Linked DNA regions of Homo sapiens. The protein of the gene in region 5 purifies or fractionates together with the protein of the main gene of each other region. This does not show direct contact. Each region holds a gene or a part of one and is shown on either strand. Other genes may lie near its edges.

Region 1 (3,500 bases), on a different chromosome or scaffold from region 5:
TAATTGTAATTTAGGGATACAGGATGAAGCACAGTACGAGTCTTCAAATGTTGATAATCTCCAAATTGTTAAGACAGGTCTTTTGTCATATGTCAAAAGAGTACACCTTCTCTGGCACCTTGGGAGACTGGGACTTCAGCGAGGTACAGTTAGAATGACCGTGGCCACATTCCTGGACCGAAGTCGGCTGGGGACCATATTTAGAGGGTCTAGCATTGGCGGTGGGGGCCGGGGGTAGGTAGGGGATAGGGAAGCATAAAAACTCTAAAGCCTCAAACAGGGTGAGCTTTCAGCTAAAGTCAATTTCTCTATTTTCTAAGAAAAAAGAACCAAGATGAACAGGTTCTCTGGTAGAAGATGATTTTTCTGGAAGAATGCTGAGTTATTTTCACAACTTTGATAGTAACTCACTGAGCCTATCTATCAATGGCTCAACTACTCAGCCCTATTTTCACATCTGCAAAATAAGAGGCCTAGGGCTCCCAGGGTTCCACAAGCCCTTAGGTAGTGAAGGGGGACAGGCTAGTTTTATTATGTCAAAAAGTCTGCTGGAAATTTTGTGTAGCCCATCAGAAGAGTGCATTAGCTAAATATGTTCTTTATTTTGGACTGGAATATATAAATTCTGGCTCAAAAACTCTGAATCTTTGGGATATAATGTTTCCCCCTTTCAGCTCATAATGTCATAGAGATAGACACCAAGAAATAACACAGACATCTAAATTCTTCTGTCACTAGACTCAGCCTGCATCTTAAAACCGGCAGGTGACACGCAATTTCCCCCAGAGAACTCCGGCACCAGATCCATTGCTGAGTGGAACCACGTGCTTAGGTTGGAACCTTTTCCTTCTCTCCATGGCACAGCATGGGGGAGGAGAGTTTTTGGAGACCTCATGCTCACAGCCTTTCAGAACAGGACAGAGAAGCAATCTGTTCTGGAAGGCCTGGAGTGTGAATGCAGCGGGCCCCACACGTCACACATAGTCGTCCCTTACGTGTATTCCATGTCCTGACACCTTCTGTTGGCCTGCACCACCTCCTCCTCCTCTTGCCAGATGTGGGCCTCCAGCGAGCTCTCTCCGTAGCTGCCATTCCGTGAGTGGTTGATGATCGTGGTGTCCCTGGCAACACAAGGATATGCGTTTGATCATAGGAAACCTTCTTGCTTTGTCTCAATGCAAACAGACACAGAATGGAGAGGCTGGTGTTCATGCTGGAACAGAGATCAGCTCTGCATCTCGCATTGGCTCATGAAGCCTTTCCCTCCCAATTTCCCCAGCTCAGTTATCAATCTCATCTGATGCCCATACAGAGAAAGGTGTAAATGCTTGTGGAGAGGTGATCACAGGGTGCCGTGCTAAAACTCCACAAACTCCTTCACCCACTTTTCCTCTCCTGAATTCTGTCCAATTCTCTTCCTTAACTAGATAGAATTAAGCAGCATCTAAGGAAAACAAAATAAAATTCAAAAATCAAGTCCCCTCCCCCTTCTGACTACATTATGTATGTAGCTACATGGCATGTTATGAATATGTAAAATGGGCACCTAGAGATTTAATCTACTGACTTATGGACACTATTATTATTATTATTATTATTATTATTGTATTTGTTGGTGTTTCCATGCTTGTACTTTTTCATGCTTGTCCTATACCTCACTTTTCCAATCAGAGTTTAGGTTTTATTTCTGTTTATCATCCATACAGCATAGAATGCCTACTTCAGTATTTTACAGTAAAATGGGGGCTCAGTAAATACTTAAAACTGAGACTGGTCCTCTCAGAGAGTGAGGCTCCAAGCTGAAGTCTTCCTTCATGTTGTATTCTGTCTCACTTCTTGTTTTATGGGCCCTGCCTGGGATGCAGGTCAGGACAATGTAATAGGCATGCCAGGGTCCAGGACAGAAAGAAGAAGGCAGACACTGTCCTTGACAAGTTCAGGTGAGGTGGGTGCAGTGAGGGCAAGGGCAGACACGAGAAGATCAAGAAGCAGTTTCACTGCAAGCATCTGTCTGACTATAAACAACCAGTCACAGATAACTATTCCTGCCACTGGTTTTGACAATTTAATTACTACTAACTAACAATGATTAGTAAAAATAAGATCACTGCATCATCTAAGTGATATAGCTCAAGATGAAAGGCACAATAATGGCTCTGACTACATGAGTATTTAATTAGTAAGACATGATGTAGCCAAGTATTTCACATCTTTTAACTTCATATTCCAATGTACAATCATACTGAAAAACTTTTTTTTTTTTGAGATGGAGTTTCATTCTTGTTGCCCAGACTGGAGTGCAGTGGCGTGATCTCAGCTCACTGCAACCTCCACCTCCTGAGTTCAAGCGATTCTCTTGTCTCAGCCTTCCAAGTAGCTGGGATTACAGACATGCGTCACCACATCTGGCTAATTTTGTATTTTTAGTAGAAATGGTGTTTCACCACGTTGGTCAGGCTGGTCTCAAACTCCTGACCTCAGGTGATTCACCCGCCTCAGCCTCCCAGAGTGCTGGGATTACAGACGTGAGCCACCGCGCCCCGCCTGAAAACTTTAAAGCTTTTTTTTTTTTTTTTACAGAATAGCCCAAAACAGAAAAATAGAGGCCCCTTTAATGACAGCTATCAACATTAATGAGCATTTACTTCATACAGGGACTGGGTAGGGCACGGTACACATGGTCTCTCATTTAGTTCTCACAACTTGTGCACAAGGTATTATTATCCTCAATTTCTAGATGAAGAAACCAGGGTTAGGTGACATTTCCAAGAATACTCAGTTAGTGAATAGTGAAAATGGATTCTAACTCAGGTATTTATGACTCCAAAGTCCATGCCCCTAACCATCGCTCTATACTCCTGCAAGTTTCATATGTCTTTAAGAAGAAGGTCTCAGCAAAGATGAGTAAAGATAAAAACAAACCAGAGGGCATATGTGAGAATGTGGCTCAGAAAAGTGCAAAGTGTCATTGAAAATACACTAAAGGCCAAATGATGTAGAAAGCAAACAAAATGCTTTAAACATATTTGCAAAATTATAAATTCACACTATGGTGCACAAAATCATCAATATAGAAATTAGTGGCTAGAAACATTTTCAACAAATTTACTTTTGGAGACTTTACATGGAGCTGGAAACAAATCTGAAAATTCATGTTTACATTGCCAAGTAAGGAGAGCAAACACAATTAGAGGAAAGCAACTTAGATAGTAAATATATAAAACTCTGAAAGAAATATTACATTGCTTTGAAATTTTTAAAAATTTTCAAAACCTTCTGCACACATAAAAGATAAGCTGACTCTCTAAAAATTCTGACCAACACCATCAAGATGCATAAAGATGGGAAAACCAGTTGGTTTACAGAAGTTATTTTCTTTGTTTAAAAATCATTGATTATAAATATAAAGCATGCATCTGTGGTTGAAAAGTCACAAAACTAATGGCTGGAAATAGTCATTTTTACCAATTTGACTGTGGCCATTTAGCACCTAGTCAATA
Region 2 (3,500 bases), on a different chromosome or scaffold from region 5:
GAGGACTATACCAATTAGAATTACCTGATATACTTATGAAGGATATATATTCCTGGGCCCATCTCAGATTTTAGGAATCTGGGGGTAGAACTCAGGAAACAAAATATATATATATATATATATTTTTTTTTTTTTTTTTTGAGACGGAATCTTGCTCTGTAGCCCAGGCTGGAGTGCAGTGGCGCAATCTCAGCTCACTGCAACCTCTGCCTCCCAGTTCCCAGTTCAAGCAATTCTCCTGCCTTAGCCTCCCGAGTAGCTGGGATTACAGGCGCGCCATGATGCCCAGCTAATGTTTTAGTATTTTTAATAGAAACAGGGTTTCACCATGTTGGCCAGGCTGGTCTTGAACTCCTGATCTCATGATCCGCCCACCTCAGCCTCCCAAAGTGCTGGGATTACAGGTGTGAGCCACTGCGCCCAGCCAGAAACTAAAATTTTAATACTTTTTCCAGGCAATTCTTCAACACAAAAGTTGAGATCACTGTTTCCTTCTGTTGTAGCCTAAGTGCTTAGAACTCTGTGACTCCCCAACTATTTATCTCCTGTGGCTTTGTAATCTGACTCCAATCTTCTAGGTTCCTTAGTTGCCTATCCTTGACTTGTACTTATTTCTAAAAATCTTGGCCCTGGTTTGGTAATATAATAAAGACTTGGATATGGAAATTTTAGCTCTGAAGTCCATATAAACTCCAATACTGACATAGGAATAAAAAGCTCCAGTTCCTTTCCCTGAAATCATGGAGCTTTTGTTAAATATCACCTATGGTGTTGACTGGACATTGGATTGACCCAGTATGTCAATTCTTTTGTTGCCAGATCTGCAGAGAACAAGATGCTCACTACTACAGACTCAACTATTTGAATTCCTGCTTATTGTCTCTAAAGAAAGAAGGCACAAATTTTCTTGTCAGGGATGAATGACATTTGCTAAGAGAACAGTTGTCACTATATAGATAGAGGGTGCCTATGAGAATGTTCCAGTTCCTAGAGTAGTGATGAAATGAGTTCTCCTAAGATGTCTCTAGATCTTAATGATGGGACAAAAGAATGTCTACTTGATATGAATAAGAGCTTCTTTATTCAATAAGGGATAGTCTTTGATAGCAGCAATGAGGATCCTGATACAATGGCTTCTAGATACTTTCATGCTTAGTAGGTTAGTGATCCAAACTGTAGAGATAGTACGTTCATGTATCCAGGGCTACCTCTCATTCTCCTTCCTTAATCCTAGCTAGTTCTTATAGTCCTACTTTGTCATCTTTCTGGTTTGCCTGAGGTGACTAGAATAAAAAGCAAATCTTAAATTATAGGAGTCTTTTGCTATTTCCAGCAAACTGATCCTTGCAGAAAAGGATTAAATCCAACCTATCTTTGTATCCCACAAAGTACCTCATCACGCACTGCTAGACTTGACATGTTTAACTGAGTGCCTTGTTCAACACCAACAAGAGAACCCTCCTCATAAAAAGCATCTAAAAGCTTAAGCCTCATATAAAAGGTGCTTTCCACGCTACCTCCCACCAAGGTCACGGGATAAGGATAGACATTTAAGTCATGGTGGTCATGCAATGCATTCAGATTTCTCTCTTGCCAACTGAACTAAAAGAAACACACTGTCACCATCAACAGGTAAACTCTAGTTGAAAGAACAGTTCAAGTCAACACCATGGCAAATCAAATCCACTTACCAGTCAGAGAAGCAGAGACTATGAAAAACCAGGGCAATACAAACAGAACTGGAAGGGAGAAGTGAGAAAGGGAGATGAAGCAGACATGGAAGGAGATGCTGAGACAAGAAACCATTTATCACCAGAACGAGAGCTTGAGAGACTAGCTTCTCAGATTCCTAACGTTTCTCCCATTCACACAAGGTCTAGTCACTCTTCTTCAACCCAAAACAGCTGAATCCCTACAACGCCTGTCCTTGAAGCCAAATGATCCCTAATTCAAGCATTATTTTTTAGTACGTACACCAAGACAAATAGAAAGCTAGAAACATAAATCCAAGGAGGAAAAAATAATTCTACCAGGAAAAAACTGAAATCACAGGTAGCCAAAAAGCTTTGTAAATATGAATCTTATTTATCAGGAAGTACCATCAATATTTGTCATATTCCTGCTAATGAAACAAATTAAACTTTGTCTTTTTTTAATAGAAATTATCACAGTATTGACAAATGAAAAATTGTCTCAAACCCAGAGAAGACAAAAATCAGGTGATCTACCTTTATTTGTTAATACATTTGAAAATATTTTGTTAGCCTGTTTAAAGCAGACTTCCGTTGTTGTCTGTAATAATCGATAGTATATTGGATTAACAGCCTCATCTTTTAAGACAGGCTTTATAATCATATGGCTGATTAAGGGGCAGCAAAGTATAACCAACCCTGTAACTATCCTTTAACTTGTACCTAACAAAAATAGTAACCATAACCTCCCCTTTTATTCTGTAAAGATCCTTTTTCTGAAAATATCTTTGAACTAACTTCCTTTAAAGCTAGTTCCCTTGCAACAAGTACAAAATAAAACTATGACATATGCTGACAATCAATTAATCTGACAAGTTTGCATTAACACTGTCAAAACCAAACTAATGTCAAAATAGCTGTAATTTTGGTTATCTAACACAGATTCTAACATATCCTCTCTAGCAACAAACATACCATGTAAGCCTTGAATTTATTTAAAATTTAAATCTTTTTTTGTTTGTTTGTTTGAGATAGAGTCTCGCTCTGTTGCCCAATCTGGTGTGCAGTGGCGCCACCTTGGCTCACTGCAACCTCCGCCTCCCAGGTTCAAGTGATTCTCCTGCCTCAGCCTCCTGAGTAGCTGGGAGTACAGGTGTGTGCCACCACGCCCGGCTATATTTTTGTATTTTTAGTAGAGGCAAAGTTTCACCATGTTGGTCAGGCTGGTCTTGAACTCCTGACCTCATGATCCATCTGCCTTGGCCTCCCAAAGTGCCGGGATTACCGGCATGAGCCACCACGCCCAGCCTCATTTAAATCTTACACATTTTATTTGTGGACAATTTCAATGTTATCGTTAACTTTTACCAGAAAATTTTAATGGGTCCTAATATTATAATTCCTCATTTAAAAAAAAAAAACTAGCCGACCAGTGGCTTACGCCTGTAATCCCAGCACTTTGGGAGGCCAAGGCGGGTGGATCACCTGAGGGGGGATTCGAGACCAGCATGACCAACATGGAGAAACCCCGTCTCTATTAAAACTACAAAATTAGCCGGGCATGGTGGCGCATGCCCATAATCCCAGCTACTCAGGAAGGCTGAGGCAGGAGAATCACTTGAACCTGGGTGGCAGAAGTTGCGGTGAGATGACATCGCGCCATTGTACTCCAGCCTGGGTAACAAGAGCGAAACTCCATCTCAAAAAAAAGAAAAAAAAAAAAAACCTAGCCAATATTCAGATTCTCATAACAAAAAAAAAAATTGGTATGTTTGCAATGTCAGGTTCATCTAAAAAATAAACTTTTAA
Region 3 (3,500 bases), on a different chromosome or scaffold from region 5:
GAATTTTAACATTATTAATATTAATATTAAGAATATTCAGGGCAGGCATGGTGGCTCACACCTGTGATCCCAGCACTTTGGGAGGCAGAAGAGGGTGGACTGCTTGAGGCCAGGAGTTCAAGACCAGCCTGGTCAACATGGCAAAATCCCATCTCTACTAAAAATACAAAAATGAGCCAGGTGTGGTGGTACATGCCTATAGTCCCAGCTATTCAAGAGGCTGAGGCATGAGAATCACTTGAATCCAGGAGGCAGAGGTTGCAGTGAGCCAAGATTGCACCACTGCACTCCAGCCTGGGTGACAGAGGGGGACTCTGTCTCAAAAAAAAAAAAAAAAGAATGTTCACCAAGAATATTCATGTTATCCTCCTGGTCCTATTGACTTGCTCTGTCTGAAGAAATTATCTTATTCTTCAAGAATATTATATTAGTAACATTAATAATATTCACCAACAGTATTTACTTATTTTTCCAAGCAAAGGTTCCTCCTCTATGTTCTCATGATATCAGTTATAATTACACTTACATATCAGTTATATTTTACTTCTACATCTCCATCACTAAACTATGAGGCCATAAAATGTGATCTTTAATCCCCAGCATTCACTGTGGCACAGTGCCTAACCTGTAGAGAGTGTTTAACAAATGTTTGCTGAATGAATGCGTCTATCTAGAAAACTGTTGAGGGATGAGCAAATCTTTATAGATCTTCATAAATGCACCATTACAAAAATATTAATATTTTTTTTTTTTTGAGACGGAGTCTCGCTCTGTCACCCAGGCTGGAGTGCAGTGGCACGATCTCTGCTCACAGCAAGCTCGGCCTCCCGGGTTCACACCATTCTCCTGTCTCAGCCTCCCGAGTAGCTGGGACTACAGGCACCCGCCACCACGCCCAGCTAATTTTTGTATTTTTTTTTTTTTTAGTAGAGATGGGGTTTCATTGTGTTAGCCAGGATGGTCTCAATCTCCTGACCTTGTGATCTGCCCGCCTTGGCAGTCAGTAACCTGTAATGCACCGAAGACTGAACTATGTTTAAACAAAATCCAGGTTAAATATTTAAAGAATTGTTTTCATACTTACAGATTTCCCTTCTGCCCAAATGACTGCCCCAACTCCTGTTTTATGATCCTCTGAAAGATATATGGCATTTAACTCAGTAAAAATTATGATATGTTAGTTTTAGAAATATATTTTTCCAAAAGTAATAAAAACTTGTATTGAAACATACTTCATAAATGTAGCAGCAATCCTTGTATCTTCACTAATTACAGAAAAGTATTAAAATAAACACTTTTAAGTATGGAATATGGGAGCTAGGTACCAAATAACTAGAGAGAGTCACTACCAACTCAGTCACACATACGTATGTGGAGGCCACTAAATGGCAGTGTCCACAGTCAGGTCCCTCAAAGCTGTAGCCAGAACTAAGTGCAACTTCATTGATTCTCCATTAACAAGCCGGTTTCTAAACAACTACTTCTGATAGGTGATAAAATTTAATAAAGGTTTCAGAACTAATGGATTTTGTGTAATAACTGTTCACAACAACCAAATTTGTCTTTTCCCAGCATTATTTATACTCTAATCATGGAAAATATATCTTATGAAAATGTTCTTGCTAAGAAAAAAGTTCAAACTTCTCATACGAACATAAACAAATCTTTATGGATCTATCTATCTATTGCTAGAAAGTACATGAAGAGAATTCTGATTTAAACAAAATGTTGTCCTTTCTTTGACCTTCAGTTTACCTTGAGGGAAAAAGAATGCAAGTTAATGACATCTTGCCCATTTCTAAATCAAATAGCAGAAGTTATAAACAAACATAAGATTATAATTTCCCTGTAGAACCAAAACCTTTGCAAAAGTAAAGCTGTACTTCTTAAAACCATTAATCTGAAACAGAAAATTAAAAAACAAAATAGAAATTCTACATATTAAGGATTTACTTTTTCCTTCTATACAATGTTGAGTTTCAAATTTCTAAGACAAATTACACTAATTATGAAAACCATAGTATTTATCAAAATCTTAATAAGGGACTAAGGTAGTTAAGTGGCACATTTACACGTAGAAAATAACAATTATCTGTGAACTTACCCTAAGGCATTTTCATTTTGGGGAGGATTAACTGAAACCGTGGTTTCACCCTACAATTTCCTAAAAGTGAATCCCTCCAATGATAACATTTTTAAATACCTACTTTCCAGTAAAGGTACAAAGAAAATTTGTGCCACAATTGCATTAAAAACTAGAATGAATGTCTTATTAAGAGGTTAACTTTAAAACAGTTATGATACTCTAATAAAATTTCCCATCTCAAATTCAAGCAAACCCTGGTTTTCAAAATTATACCACAAAGCATTTGTATAATTTATGTTAAACATGTTTATTCATGATCTCATTTTTACCCTAAAGGTAAAGCAGATAAAATTTCCATTTCTAGATGCAGAAACAGGCAAAGAAATAGACTAAAACTTAGCCCTCCAGATCCAACCTGCTTGGCCTTTCCTCCACCTTGCACCGTGACATAAAGAATTCCTTGACACAGCCTGGCCAACATGGTGAAACCCCGTCTCTACTAAAAATACAAAAATTAGCCAGGTGTGGTGGTGCATGCCTGTAATCCCAGCTACCTGGGAGGCTGAGGCAGGAGAATTGCTTAAACCTGGGAGGCGGAGGTTGCAGTGAGTTGAGATCGTACCACTTCACTCCAGCCTGGGGGACAGAGCAGAACTCCATCTCAAAAAAAAAAAAAAAAAAGAAAAAGAAATCCTTGACAAAAATTTCCATTTATTGAATGCCTCTTATGTTCCAAGTACTGTGAGAACTGAGGATGCAGTGGTGAGGGAAACTGTAGTCCCTTCCTCATACGACTTACAGTTGGATGGTGAAGGAGAACAGCAACAAGGAAACAAACAGTACTTTATGTGCTGTGCTCTGAAGGAAATAAATGAGGCTGAACAGCAGAGTGCACGAGATGACTTCCTTCTACAGAGTAGAGGGAAAAGGGATTTTGGTGTAAACAAAATTGGGTTCCTTCCTAGACCTTTAGAGTTTAACATGAGTGGGCAAGAATACAAATCAATGGCTTTATGCTCATTTCTAAGGTAAGTGGCAGAAGTTATAAACATAAGATTATATTTGCCTGCAAAACCAAAATCTTTAAAGTTTTATTTAATTTATGCATAAATCTAAAATGAAAAAATAAAAAACCAGAATAAAAATTCTCCATATTAAAAGCCCCCTTTTCTACCATCAACACTGCATATTTTTAATGTTATGTTTCTTAGTCACAGAAGCCACTTTTTCTGTTTCAGCCTGGGGACAGACTAAACCTTGTTAGGAGGAAAAAAAAAATGTGATTTTTCCATCAGCATGCAGCTCTGCTGCCTAGCTAAGGTTGGTTACATCAAGAGAATATTCTTTACTACTTGTCTTTTAAAATAGGAATAAATTTTCATCCATATAAAACAGATTTGATGTCACTCAGCAT
Region 4 (3,500 bases), on a different chromosome or scaffold from region 5:
AGAAAACATAATGAAAGAAGTACCGGAGAGTATTTTAAATAGCACCATCATAGACATAAATACAGTCTTGTTATAGCTTTGAAAATGGGAAAAGCAGGAGAAAAAGTGTTTGATATCAGTTTAACAATTAATTAATAAAAAGTTTTCTGGAGTCTATAGTATTTAACGTTTTACAGCTATATTTCACTTTGTTTCTTTACTTACCTTGGGCTGCAATCATTTTCATGAAGAGATTCTCATTTACTAAGTATACTTTGCAGTTCTTTTACAGTATGATCATAGTTCTTCATAGATGTAATATGTGTAAATATATATACATGCAAAATACATATACTTTGATTTTCTTTAATTATCTTTAGTTAATAACTTGTTCTAAATTTGAACATTGTTAATTTTTAAAGTGGAAAATTTGGTCTTATAATTATTATAAAAATTCATCTACAGTTTTGTGGCTCATATGTCAGATAATCTTACATTATAGTTATGTATACAAAATAATTTTAGGCTATTAGAGGTTCATATTTATTTTTATATATCAACAGGGTTCTATACTATTTCTCTTCAGGGAGAAAAATATTTGAACTCACAACCTATTTATAAATCCTGTCTCCTTTCTGGCTTCTTTAGTTATTCAAGTTCAAAGGACATACCACATCTTTTAGGAGAGGCACCAGAGCACTTAGAGTACTAAATAATATCACAGGGGCTTCTACAAAGATGTGCTTTATTTCTATAGGATATCATATTAGTCCCTTTTCACGCTGCTGATAAAGACATACCCGAGACAGGGCAATCTACTTACAGTTCCATGTGGCTGGGGAAGCCTCGTAATCGTGGTGAAAGGCAAGGAGGATCAAGTCCCATTTTACATGGATGGCAGCAGTCAAAGAAACAATGAGGAAGCTGCAAAAGCAGAAACCCCTGATAAACCATCAGATCTCGTGAGACTTATTTACTACCACCAGAACAGTATGGGGGAAGCCACCCCCATGATTGAATTATCTCCCACCAGGTCTCTCCCACAACACGTGGGAATTGTGGGACTACCATTCAAGATGAGATTTGGGTGGGGACACAGGGCCAAACCATATCAGATATATAACAGTGTATACAGGGCCCACATTTGTTTTGTTTTTAATATATATAATATTCAAATAAACTGCCTTTAAGAGTTAACTACATTTTCTAAAACAAGGGCTATAAATATGTTAAATATAACTTCAGATATTTACTGAGATATATTGGGTTCATATTTGATTTGTGTATAGTTTTACAGTTTTTTTGTTTGTTTTTTTGTTTTTGTTTTTGTTTTTTTGAGATGGAGTCTCGCTCTGTTACCCAGGCTGGAGTGCAGTGGCACGGTCTCAGCTCACTGCAGCCTCTGTCTCCCGGGTTCAAGTGATTCTCCTGCCTCAGCCTCCCAAGTAGCTGGGATTACAGGCATGCGGCACCACGCCCAGCTAATTTTTTATATTTTTAGTAGAAATGGGGTTTCAGCATGTTAGCGAGGCTGGTCTTGAACTCCTGACCTCAGATGATTCGCCTGCCTCGGCCTCCCAAAGTGTTGTGATTACAGGCATGAGCCTAGTTTTACCGTTTTTAAATTTTAGTTTTATTCTTAGGTAATTCAGAAAATATTTTAGGGAAAATATATTATTGATGAAAAATAAGATGTACTATGGTTATTTTTCATGACTTTCGACTGAAAATACTTAGATTTTTGTGTGAAATTTCCAGTATTTAAATTGGCAGTGATAAGGCAGTTTCGAATCTTTTTAGAGCTCTACAGTAGTCGCATCTGCCCAGCAAGTGAAGACAACGCAAACTTCAAATGCTCCTGATGTAAATGATGCAATTGTGAAACTATTCAATGATTTTGATGTTAAGGAAACCTCCCATCATTTAGTGATTTCTCATCTAGATCTACACATATGTGATGACATTCATGCTAAAGAAAAAGGTAAAATAACTTGCTTATTTCAAACTATTTTGGTTTTTCTAGAATTGACTACAAAACTGGATTGTTTATTAAATCTGTTGTGTAGGATGTCCTGTAAGATAATTTGTCATAATTGTGTTCATATGAATATATAGATGAAAGGCACAACTGGAAGCATATATTGGTATGAAATTTTATTTTGCTTTAGCAGTACTTAAGCTTAATTATTTGTTAGCTATCAATGCTAACAATAAAATTAGCTTTAAAAAAATCAGACTGAATAGATGATCCTCTAGGAGGATGATGAAATATTAGACTCGCCTTTGAATTAACTTTTTGATAATGTTGAAATTGTCTCCAAATTAAATTTTAGTCCATACTTAATTCATAATTATTTGTAGATGTGTTTTCAGCATTGCAGTTTTTCTACCTATTTTGAATAGAAGCACAACTGTGCAACTATTTAACATATTTTATGGCCACCTCTCTTCCCATCCTTCCAAAATTTGATTAGGAAGCAAAATTCCAGTTAGGAATTTTCTTTTAGTTTTTGTCCCTGTTATTTTTCCTTATTTAGTAGATGTAGTTCTGTAATCTAGGCGCTGGGCGTTTTTGTTTCTCTGCTGGAGAGCATCCCTGGCCCAGAAGTGTTGGGGTTGAGTTCAGCAGGTAGGCCTACCTTAAGGACTATAATTCTCAAACTTTGGTGAGCATTAGAATCAGGCTGAAGACCTTTAAACAATAGAGTTATCTGATCTCTGTGCCTCAGATCTGAATCAGGATCTATATCTACAAAAATTTTTGCCATGTGTTTTTAAGCTGAGAAAGTGAATATTGAGACCCTGGATACTTAGCAGTAGAAGTTACCCTGCCTTCATTAGACAAGGCAGCCTAAAAGATTCCAGCCTAAAAGGTTGGAGGGGCAAAGGTGAGGAAGATTCGGGGTTTGTGGAGGGATTTGTTATCTTTTGTTCTGACTACCATTGTGTCATTTGACTTATAGTTGGCATCTTTTACTTTAGAGATTTGAAAGGAAAATCCAAAAAAGTTAGAACAAACCAAACTAAGAAAATGAGGTGGTCAAGATTAAGTAGTAAGAATGAGAATGGAGAAAGTGTTTTCTAAGGCCTTACATTCCTCACTATTCCCTGATAGAATAAATTGAATGATTTTATTTAGGAAGAAAACCTTTTCACCAAAATATCTCCTTAATAGTACAGGTCTGTAATCACTATTGTGAAATCCAAAAGGCTCTGAAATATTATAAGTTTGTGAAAAACTCATTTGGTGGCAAAACCTGACTTATGCCAATACTTTTTTTTATTCTTTGCCTGCTTCCTATAAATATTTATGTTTTGCTGCAGAATTGCTATTTTTATTAGTGCTGCCTCAGAACCTGCTGAGAGTGTTGCATGGTATATCCTGTATATACCGTATCATATTACTGTCGTGAAATCTAAACATTTCTGAATTCTGAAACATTTGGCTTTCCAAAGGTTTTACGTAAGGGATTGTAGACCTGTGCTGAAAATTCTACTAGTTGAGATAAATTGGATTTTAC
Region 5 (3,500 bases):
TGACTAATTATATCATAACTCATTACTTTAATAGACAATGAAGCCTAGTTTAGTCTTTATCCTTGGATATTACTGTTGGAAAGAATTCCTCTGTAATTTTCCAAGTTTTACATTGTTGTAACATGTCATTTTAACATAGCACCAAGTTTTGTTCTCCACATTTTATAAATGAGAATCTGAAGCTCAGAAACACTGAGTGTGTTGAAGTCCCAGCAAATTAGTAGTAAAACCAGAAGAAAAACTCCAAGTGCCTAGTTCATTTTGTTAATTGCTTTTTATCTTTTCTTGACCATGGTATGATATAACATACCATGACGTTATACATTTTAACGGATAACTTATATTTAACCATTAACTCTGTAATATTTTAATACATTTCAGGAAAAATGTAGTTGATATCCTTATCTTCACTTTTATTAATTCTATGATAAATTAGCCCATTCAGGGAATGAGTATTTTAGGAAAATAAAATTGTTTTATGGCCTCTCAGCTGCTGCTTTTTCTTTGAAACATTCTAAATAATAATTGTAACATCAAAAGGGATAGTTTGAAGTTTGTTTGGTGCCTTCACACATTTAACTCGCATTTAGCATTCTACGACATTGTGAATTATATGGGTTGGGTGTCATTTTCTTTTCAGTGGAAGCAATGGTGTGCAGAAATAGTGGCTGCCGTAGGGTCTGTGCTGGTGAAGTCCCTGCCTTAAAAGGGTCTGATCCTGTGGTCATCTTGAATGTCTTTCATTTTGGCCTCTACTGTACTGCTTTAATCCCTTACCATTCTAGATTAGATCCCTTTCTTTTGAGACAGGCTGGAGTCTTGCTATGTTGCCCAGGCTGACCTTGACCTCTTGGGCCCAAGTGATCCTCCCACCTCAGCCTCCTGCATGGCCGAGACTACAGTCACAAGCCACTGTGCCTGGCTTTAGATCACTTTCTTAGTAACATGCAGAAGTATCCACTTTATATTTGTTGTTCTGTATCTTATGGGCTTCTTTTTGGAATTCGTTATGAGGTTAAGAGTTTAGATATCAAAAGACATTGAGTCACAACAGTTTCGGTTTTCCTTCGAGAAAAAAGATTGCATGCAACTTTATATATATTCAAATGTAATATGTACATTCATATATAATTACATATTTTATGTATACTATACATATACATACATATATACTCCTATCTAATTCATGTATATATGTTTTCATATGTATGTGAAAGTTGACTGGTTTAACTTACATAGTGATCTAGATGAAAAATGATAAATCATTTTTATATTTGTTTCTATGAAGTGGAAATCCTAGGTTGGTTTGCGTTTTTTTTTTGCAGAGAGCAAAAATGTTGGAGACACTGGTTGGAAAATTGAAATGCTGCATTGGAGAAGAGAGCGATAGTCAAAAGTAATTTCCTTCTCTAACGTGGATATCCAATTAGTAAATTTATTTAAGTTTTCTATATTAGTACTTAGTAAAGTGACATTAATCACTTAGAAAAAGCAACATGATTGCTGACATCAACTTGGGTGCTTATCTTTGGAACTAGTGCTTATGTTCTTTACTTGCCCAGATATGCTTTAAAAAAAAAAATCCTTCGAAATTTAAATGTCAAAAGCTTAATTGACCTTGCTCTGAGGGATCTTAATATTTTGATTCTGAAGCACATTTTCAGGAATGTACAGAGGGGACAAAAGCTCTCTTTATCATTTTGCAGCTTTGGAGCTATGGAGTTAATTGAAGGCATACGAAAAATTAAAGAATGATTTAACAGCTGCTTTCTTAAGCTTTTGTTGAGGAGTGTTATTGGTTCTAAAGTTTCACTGATTGTATGAACTGAGTTCTTGAATACTTGAAGTTGAGTGACTTCTCTGAGGTTTCAACATGGGAGTCATCTGGGATACTTTCACACGAATTCTTGGGCTCTCATGCCCCCACCCATTCTGATTTTAATTCTCTTGGTCTGGGACCAGGGGATGGCTAGTTTTAAAATGCTGCTCAGGTGATTGTAGTGTGTGACCAGATTTGAGAATCATTGATTAAGTAGATATCAATAGCTGACATGGAGCTGATGCAAAAAAGAGAATAGAGGCTGTTACTAATCATTTATAGGGAACTCAAGATTGTAACTTTAGCATTATTTTGCCTTTTGAAAGATTCCATGTAGCTGCTTTGCAATATTATTTTTAAAGCTTTTGCTACTTCTTTTTGAATAAGTATATTAACTTCATTTTACAATGAATGAAACTGAGGATCAGAGAGCTTAATTAACACATTGAAGGTCATACAACTCTAAGGAATGGAAGAGTATTAGAAACAAGCTCTGATTCCAAACCTATGCTTTTCATAGTGCTATGTTTGCTACCATGGATTATACTGAATGGCTAAAAATGATTTTTATTTAAAGTGGCCTTATAAAAGCATTATCTTGATTCTTTTTAAAATTATGTTTACATTTTATATTTAAAAACTATAAATTTCAATGCATATAAAATGTCTAGCATTTAAAAGGAGATTAATTATTTGGCTTATGTCTTCAAAGTAATGTGTAACATATTCCTGTGTATGGTATGATGTAATTTAACTCATAGTAAACTGGCAGTTTTTTTCATCATATGACAAAGTCTATACTTATTTTTTGATATTAGGCAGCTATTAAATGTATAACAATATTTCAAAAGTAGGATTTTTGATTACTGAATAACAAAAATGAAATTATTTATTAAAAATGCTATACTTGCCCTTCAAAATCAATTACCTCTACATGAGTTAGAGGATATTGAATAACAATATTATGACCTTATATTTGTACTGAAACGCCAGATGTGTTAATATAATAATAAATGCCAAACTTCATGTTATTAAGACAACTACTTTTAATTAATCAGTCAAAAACTCCTGAACTCTTACTTTATATAAAACATATTTTTCTAGGTACTGGGAAATAGGCTTCTAATCTTAAGAACTTCACTACAGAAATTATATGTATCTGTAGGAATAAAATGAACATGATGTTAGTGTATAAATGGTACTTTGTTACTGGCTTAAAACATTATGTCTATGCTTAGAATTTAAAATGCAACAGCCTAACTTATGGGTCAGCAAACTATGTCCTGAAAGTCAAAACAGCCCTCTACCTGCTTTTTTATCCCCCTTTTTCTCCATTGTGGTAAAATATGCATAGCATAAAATTTACCATCTTAGCCATTTTTAACTGCATGGTTCAGTGGTGTTAAGCACATTCATATTGTTGAACCATCACCACCTTCCATCATTATAACTCCTTCCATCTGGCAAAACTGAAACCCTATACCCATTAAACAATAACTTCCCCATTCCACTTTCTCCAGCCCCTGAAAACCACCATTCTACTTTGTCTCTGATTTTGACTACTCTAGGTACCTCTTACAAGTGAGATCAAAGTCTGTCTTTTTTTGACTGGCTTATTTCACATAATGTCATACATGTTGTAGTATATATCAGTACTTTATTGCTTTTTATAGCTGAATAA
Region 6 (3,500 bases), on a different chromosome or scaffold from region 5:
GGTGGCTGAGGCAGGAGAATGGCATGAACCCGGGAGTCAGAGCTTGCAGTGAGCCGAGATTGCACCACTGCACTCCAGCCTGGGCGACAGAGCAAGACACCATCTCAACAAAACAAAACAAAAAGATTTCATTTCTTTTTTTTAATGAAATAACAAGATTTCATTCTTGGCTTATACCTGGATACTCTGCCTTTCAAGTCCCAGAAATTTAAATTTCCATCCATATCTCCAAGCACTAATGTATCACCTTTCCAAGCGATGCAGGTAATACTACCCATACTTCCCTAGAAAACAACAGCAACAAACAAATATAAATTTCACTATGCTGTATAAGACATTATAATAAATATTTTAATAAAACTTAATTTAAAGGGCTGTGCTTTAGTATGCTTTTAGTCATCAAATCCTAAAACAGACTTTAGACACTAACAAAGAGCTACATTGCCTATCAATTTCAACTATGAAGAAATAGGAGATTTCAACTTCATAGACATTAAGTAGTTACTGGAACTAGATTTAAAGAGAGGGGATGTCTTTTGAGGAACAAATACCTCAAAAAAAAAAGGGGGAAATTAAAGTAAGAAAAACAGAGAAGTAAAGGGAAGGTTTTCCAGAGAGCCAACTCAAACTTATCTCTCACTGCAAAAGGATAACTAAATCCATTCCAAGGGAAACTTAAAGCTCTTTTATAACTAATTGTGCCGTGATTTTTCTATTGAAAAAAGGATCCAGAGCTTCACTGACACGTTTTGGAACATTGTGGAATCATGAAGGTGAAGAGATGCTGTTTACTAAAGGCATATGCAGTTTAAATTCACAGAAAGCTTTGCTCAGAAGTTACATATAGAAGCACAACATAAGAATGAAATGCTGCTGTAGTCAATCTAACTTGGAGGAAGAAAGGAACTTGCAGTTCTAATAGATGCTCAGAGGTGGTATCATGGAGGGCTCAGCAGCCTGGGCTCTGCAGTCACACTGCCTGGGCTTGAATCCCAGCTTGAAACTGGTATGTGATTTGAGGCATGTTTACTTAACCTTTCTGTCTTGGATTTATTGTCCATAAAGTAGGGTAAGTTCATGAAACTTGAGTTGTTGCTAGTATTAATAAATTTATAAAGGCAAAGGCCTTAAAGCAATGCCTGCCATGCAGTAAATAGTCAATACATGTTAGCTATTAAATAATATTACTGCTCAATTACTTCTCTATTTATTAAAAGAAATTTTATTTTTGCATTTATTGTACAACATAAAAATTCAAATGGTATCCATGGTAAAAAGTAAGAAAACTCTAGTGGTTTGAATAATTGACCATTAGTGGACTAGCACACACACTGAATACCGTAAAAACTCTGGTAATAGTCAAGAAACAAAACAAAAACTGGATTTAAAAATCAATATTATAATAAAGTCCATTAATAAAAAAAAATATTAAAGAAATGAAATTCTGTATATAATATGAAGCAACATTTTAAGATATCTACTTTCCTAGCCATAAAATAGAATGTTTAATTAAGAAGTTGCCTTTGAAGAGACTTCTGAAACCAGGTCATAATAGACTCTGCAACTTCCTTCTTGCTTTATCAGATCACTTACTCTAGGGGAGGCCAGTTGTCATGTCGTGAGGACACTCAAGCAGCCTTATGGAAAGATCGACATGAAGAACTAAGGTCCCTCGTCAACAGCCAGCATTAATGTGCAATAGCCTGTGAGGCAGCCAACTTGGAAATAGATCCTTCTGTCCCATTACACTTCAAAAGACTGTAGCCACAGCCAACATCTAGATTGTAACTTTATGAGACCCCAAAGCCACCTATAAAATTATGGGGGTTGGCATTCTACTAGAGCATTCCATTTTTAGATAGCAATTTAAAATAAATATACCTATTTTAAAAAATCCCCTCATGCCTTCATTTAACCATTATAATAGCCTGCATTAATTAACATAAACATTTTCATGATCCATCTATTAAAAACTATCTATGAGATGCATGCTGACACAAATGATTAATGGCAAAACTTTAGTTACAGATTCCACAAGGCCATAAGAATATATGTAAGTTAGTAAATGTTAATAATACTATTACACTTACAACCTGATTACTATTATCCAAAAATAATACTAGATTGTAAGTCAAATCCTTCAGGGTAATGCCTGAAATGGAAAGAAGACAGATACTGAAGTCAGACAGGCCTGAGTTTAAAACACTGCTCTGCCATATGAGTAAGCTGGATAACTTTGGGAAAGTTACTTATTCTCCCACAGTTTTGTTATGGGTAAAATGGAGATAACTCCTCATGGATTATTACAGGGATAAAAATGAGTAGCACACAGTAAACATTTAATCAAAATAGTTACAGCGTTATTCTCTAGCAGTATGGAACAAGTTTAATCGATAATATCTCCTTAAATAAAGTTTATTTACATTAGGCTTTTCTGAAGTTTCCAACTTAACTATGCCTTCACTGGATATGGAACCAACAAAACAAAATCTTCTTGATGAAGATTTAATCAAGGTTGTACTCACATCTGGTGGAATCCGAGCACTGTCTTTTACTGAGTTTCCTTCAACAGTGAGATGATACACTTGGCCATCAATATCGGTAAATACAAAATGTTCCCGGGCAGAGATGTTCTGACTAAGTTCAGATTTACTTTCTGCCTCCTGCAGCAAGCTTTGGGATAGTGAAACATATGATAAAGATGTTTTTTTTTCCCCTAGAGTGATACTCATAATTAATTAACTTGCCCAAAGTACAGACGCATTAAGAGGAGGTCCAAAACTATTTTTTTAAAAGTCTGAAACTAATATTTGCCCAGCTAATTATGGGTAAACATGAATCACTCCTTAACAGCCACAACATCAGAGGAAGTTTACCCTGCACAGAGAGAAATGGTGATCTAAACTTAACACAAGAAAAATAAAATTCATAGAGATTTTGGCTATAGAACTGTGCTCAACAGAAGGGAGGCTGTACAGTGACCCAACATTATCTCTGAAGCCTTTTATCTGTAAGATTGGTATGGATGGGGATGATACACAAATTTAGGATTCCCAACACATTTTCTTTGGTGTGTATAAATGATAATATGATCTATCTGTATGTCTATGCTATGTTCATTTGAATTTCAGAAGCTGAAGTGTATGGAGTAGAAGGGCACTCGGAATGAGCACATTTACTACTAGATGCTGATGGGTGAATATTACTGCATATGTTATTAGTTATAACAAACAGTATAGTACAATACTAAAAATGATAAAATTATCTTTTTAGTAATCTGGGTATGTACTGAAAGATGAAACTAAGTATGTTCAAAAGCAGAGTCCAACTTGCTACCATAGACACCTTCCGATGATACTTGTCAACTTCCCAGACATGATGCTAATGGCACAAATGACAGTGTCAAGAAACACTGTACTGTACCTGATCACAGATGATTCAACAATACTCAGCTCTGTGTCTGAGACTACGGTCTGGCGGGCCATGGCCTCTCGAGTTGC
Region 7 (3,500 bases), on a different chromosome or scaffold from region 5:
GTCAGCCCCCCGCCTGGCCAGCCGCCCCGTCCGGGAGGGAGGTGGGGGGGTGAGCCCTCCGCCCGGCCAGCCGCCCCGTCTGGGAGGTGAGGGGCGCCTCTGCCCCGCCGCCCCTACTGGGAAGTGAGGAGCCCCTCTGCCCGGCCAGCCGCCCCGTCCGGGAGGGAGGTGGGGGGGGTCGGCCCCCCGCCCGGCCAGCCGCCCCGTCCGGGAGGGAGGTGGGGGGGTCAGCCCCCCGCCTGGCCAGCCGCCCCGTCCGGGAGGGAGGTCGGGGGGTGAGCCCTCCGCCCGGCCAGCCGCCCCGTCTGGGAGGTGAGGGGCGCCTCTGCCCGGCCGCCCCTACTGGGAAGTGAGGAGCCCCTCTGCCCGGCCAGCCGCCCCGTCCGGGAGGGAGGTGGGGGGGTCGGCCCCCCGCCCGGCCAGCCGCCCCGTCCGGGAGGGAGGTGGGGGGGTCAGCCCTCCGCCCGGCCAGCCGCCCCGTCCGGGAGGGAGGTGGGGATGTCGGCCCCCCGCCCGGCCAGCCGCCCCATCCGGGAGGGAGGTGGGGGGGTCAGCCCCCCGCCCGGCCAGCCGCCCCGTCCGGGAGGGAGGTGGGGGGGGGTCAGCCCCCCCGCCCGGCCAGCCGCCCCGTCCGGGAGGTGAGGGGTGCCTCTGCCCGGCCGCCCCTACTGGGAAGTGAGGAGCCCCTCTGCCCGGCCAGCCGCCCCGTCCGGGAGGGAGGTTGGGGGGTCAGCCCCCCGCCCGGCCAGCCGCCCCGTCCGGGAGGGAGGTGGGGGGGGTCAGCCCCCCTGCCCGGCCAGCCGCCCCGTCCGGGAGGTGAGGGGCGCCTCTGCCCGGCCGCCCCTACTGGGAAGTGAGGAGCCCCTCTGCCCGGCCACCACCCCGTCTGGGAGGTGTGCCCAACAGCTCATTGAGAACGGGCCAGGATGACAATGGCGGCTTTGTGGAATAGAAAGGCGGGAAAGGTGGGGAAAAGATTGAGAAATCGGATGGTTGCCGTGTCTGTGTAGAAAGAAGTAGACATGGGAGACTTTTCATTTTGTTCTGCACTAAGAAAAATTCCTCTGCCTTGGGATCCTGTTGATCTGTGACCTTACCCCCAACCCTGTGCTCTCTGAAACATGTGCTGTGTTGTCCACTCAGGATTAAATGGATTAAGGGCGGTGCAAAAAAAAAAAAAAAAGAAATTTAGCATTTAATTTTAAGCAGAAACTCTGCCCTCAAACCTTATTAATCAGACTATGACAGGAGTAAAACACAAGAATGGTGTTCAACATTCTTGTGAATGATTCTTTCTTTTCTCATCCAAGATTGATGAGAAAAACCTCCACCCAAGGTATCAAAAGTTTAATACTGATTCTGTTCTCCTCTCTTTTGAATACATAAACTAGCTAGATGACAATATCATTCCACTTTTTACTATTATCTGTCAGCTGTCAATTACAACAACAACCCCAAAAAAATTAAATCTTGACAGACATCATTGTTTCAGATGCCTCTGGAAGAGAGAGGAGAGGGAAAAAAAAATTGTTGGAAAGTTCTTTACAGCCCTGTGAGACTAAGTAAAAGAGACCTTATCATTATTCAAAAGGTAGAGTTCTGGAGAAAACAAAGACCTAAAATAAATTAACCTAGACAGAAGAAAAAGACTTGGGTGATTTAGTAGCAGTACTGCCCTCAGTGACTCAATGTTTGCAATAAGGAATGGGTAGTATCAGCTTTCCTGATACATAAAATATCACTTGTATTATTTCCTCTTCAATGAGCAAAGAGAAGTAATAACCTGGCATCACAAAGAAAAATAAATTATCCACATAGTAACTTTCTGATAAACTCTTGGCTGTCCAGCAGAAGGCCCAGCTGGGAAGAAAGTGCTGTGGACTACAGCTTGGCTCCATCCCACGCCAGCCCTCTGACCCTGGGGCTGGATCGTCTCTGGATGAGGGGGTTGCTCAGGTGATCTCTAAGGGCCTGCTCACCTTAAAGAATTTACAAATGTGAGATGTTTTAATTCGGTCTTTAAACTTACTTGATGCTTCCTGGGAAACAGCCCCATTTTAGTGGTGATGGAAATTATCTCTACAGAGAACCTTAGGAATGATACTAGTTCTGTCTTACAACTAGCATAAACAGGGGCAGATCACCAAGTCGGCCCCAAAGGGCCTGTGGCTTTGGCTCTGGCTCTGGCTCTTCTCTCTAAACCAATGCTACTCAACTTTGCCCCACAGGGGACATTCAGCAATAGCTAGAGACATTTTTGGTTGTCACAACTTGGGAGGCAGAAGGTGTGCGGATTCTAACAAAAGTCTGGGTCCCTACCATTATAATTTTAAAACCATTGCATTTACAGAATTATCCCACTTGGGCTTTTTATGGCAGTATATTCATACCTTGGTATACCACACACAGCAATGGAAAAGAAACTACAGACTACACAGAACATGGATGAATTTCACAGACATCACAATGAGCTGAAGAAGCCAGATACAAAAAGAAAAAAAAAAAAGCACCGTATGACTCCATTTATATGGATCTTAAAAACAGAAAAAATGAATCTATGGGACTAAAGATCAGAATACTGGTTATCCTTGGGAGTGTAGGGGGAGTGCTGATTGGGAGAAAGCACAGCAGAGCTTTTCGGGTACTAAGGACTGAACTGTATTCTCTCAGAATTCCTGTGTTGAAGCCCTACCCCACAATGTGATGCTATTTGGAGATGGGGTCTTTGGGAAGTAATTAGACTCAGATGAGGTGACGTGGGTGGGGTCTTCAGGATGGGATAAGTGCCCTTAGACACACCAGAAAGCTTGCTTTCCTCCACCTACCTCTCCCCACACATACACATCAAAGAAAGGTCTTGACTACACACTGAGCAGCGAGGAAGAGGGCCCTCACCAGAACCCAACTATGCTGGCATCCTGATCTCGGACTTCCAGCCTCCAAAACTGTGAGGAAATAAATTTCTGTTTAAGCCAGAACAACAGATATTTTGATATTTTATTATGGTGATCTGAGCTGACCAAAGTACCAGAAATGCTTTATATTTCAATATGGACAGTGGTCACATAAGTGAATAAATGTGTAAAAATTCCCTAAGCTGTATACTTAAGGTTGACTCACAGTTTTTTAGAAGGAATAGCAAGAAACAAAGCACTGACTTAGCAAGAAACAACCTAGCATTACCAAGGTGAGAGTTGGGAGACTTTTCTACTTTTCATTTGATTCCCTTGTCAGGGCAAATTCTTTTCCATGAGTATATGTGATCTTACATAATTTTTAATAACTTGTTAATTTTAATATTGCTCTAAATTCCCTACTTCACAGTGTGTGTCTCACCACTGCCCTTGAAGACTCAATGGCAATGACTGTCAAATCCACACCTGCCCCCGTGCACTCAAACTCCAACCGTGAGTTTCCAGGCACCACTGGTGCATCTCCTCTCAAGCACATAACTGTCACACCCACCATGTCTCCAAATGCAGTTATCCACCCCCAACTCC

What was found.
Region 1: the proteins of COBLL1 (region 5) and AMOTL1 purify together in Homo sapiens (affinity purification with mass spectrometry, with the first as the bait; one large-scale study listed by BioGRID). This does not show direct contact.
Region 2: the proteins of COBLL1 (region 5) and HMBOX1 purify together in Homo sapiens (affinity purification with mass spectrometry, with the first as the bait; one large-scale study listed by BioGRID). This does not show direct contact.
Region 3: the proteins of COBLL1 (region 5) and CDADC1 purify together in Homo sapiens (affinity purification with mass spectrometry, with the first as the bait; one large-scale study listed by BioGRID). This does not show direct contact.
Region 4: the proteins of COBLL1 (region 5) and BLTP3B purify together in Homo sapiens (affinity purification with mass spectrometry, with the first as the bait; one large-scale study listed by BioGRID). This does not show direct contact.
Region 6: the proteins of COBLL1 (region 5) and WDR11 fractionate together in Homo sapiens (co-fractionation; one large-scale study listed by BioGRID). This does not show direct contact.
Region 7: the proteins of COBLL1 (region 5) and NUP93 fractionate together in Homo sapiens (co-fractionation; one large-scale study listed by BioGRID). This does not show direct contact.

The regions. Positions count from the first base shown.
Region 1 is NC_000011.10:94,862,356-94,865,855, reverse strand, and holds part of AMOTL1 (angiomotin-like protein 1), read right to left. Parts: intron 1,122-3,500; coding exon 996-1,121; intron 1-995. UniProt on the Homo sapiens protein: Inhibits the Wnt/beta-catenin signaling pathway, probably by recruiting CTNNB1 to recycling endosomes and hence preventing its translocation to the nucleus.
Region 2 is NC_000008.11:28,896,895-28,900,394, reverse strand, and holds part of HMBOX1 (homeobox-containing protein 1), read right to left. Parts: intron 1-3,500. UniProt on the Homo sapiens protein: Binds directly to 5'-TTAGGG-3' repeats in telomeric DNA. Associates with the telomerase complex at sites of active telomere processing and positively regulates telomere elongation.
Region 3 is NC_000013.11:49,271,925-49,275,424, reverse strand, and holds part of CDADC1 (cytidine and dCMP deaminase domain-containing protein 1), read right to left. Parts: intron 1,135-3,500; coding exon 1,085-1,134; intron 1-1,084. UniProt on the Homo sapiens protein: Catalyzes the deamination of cytidine and deoxycytidine into uridine and deoxyuridine, respectively. May play an important role in testicular development and spermatogenesis.
Region 4 is NC_000012.12:100,087,375-100,090,874, reverse strand, and holds part of BLTP3B (bridge-like lipid transfer protein family member 3B), read left to right. Parts: intron 1-1,779; coding exon 1,780-1,960; intron 1,961-3,500. UniProt on the Homo sapiens protein: Tube-forming lipid transport protein which mediates the transfer of lipids between membranes at organelle contact sites. Required for retrograde traffic of vesicle clusters in the early endocytic pathway to the Golgi complex.
Region 5 is NC_000002.12:164,835,324-164,838,823, reverse strand, and holds part of COBLL1 (cordon-bleu protein-like 1), read left to right. Parts: intron 1-3,500.
Region 6 is NC_000010.11:120,885,862-120,889,361, reverse strand, and holds part of WDR11 (WD repeat-containing protein 11), read right to left. Parts: coding exon 3,424-3,500; intron 2,674-3,423; coding exon 2,526-2,673; intron 285-2,525; coding exon 178-284; intron 1-177. UniProt on the Homo sapiens protein: Involved in the Hedgehog (Hh) signaling pathway, is essential for normal ciliogenesis.
Region 7 is NC_000016.10:56,736,629-56,740,128, reverse strand, and holds part of NUP93 (nuclear pore complex protein Nup93), read right to left. Parts: intron 1-3,500. UniProt on the Homo sapiens protein: Plays a role in the nuclear pore complex (NPC) assembly and/or maintenance. May anchor nucleoporins, but not NUP153 and TPR, to the NPC. During renal development, regulates podocyte migration and proliferation through SMAD4 signaling.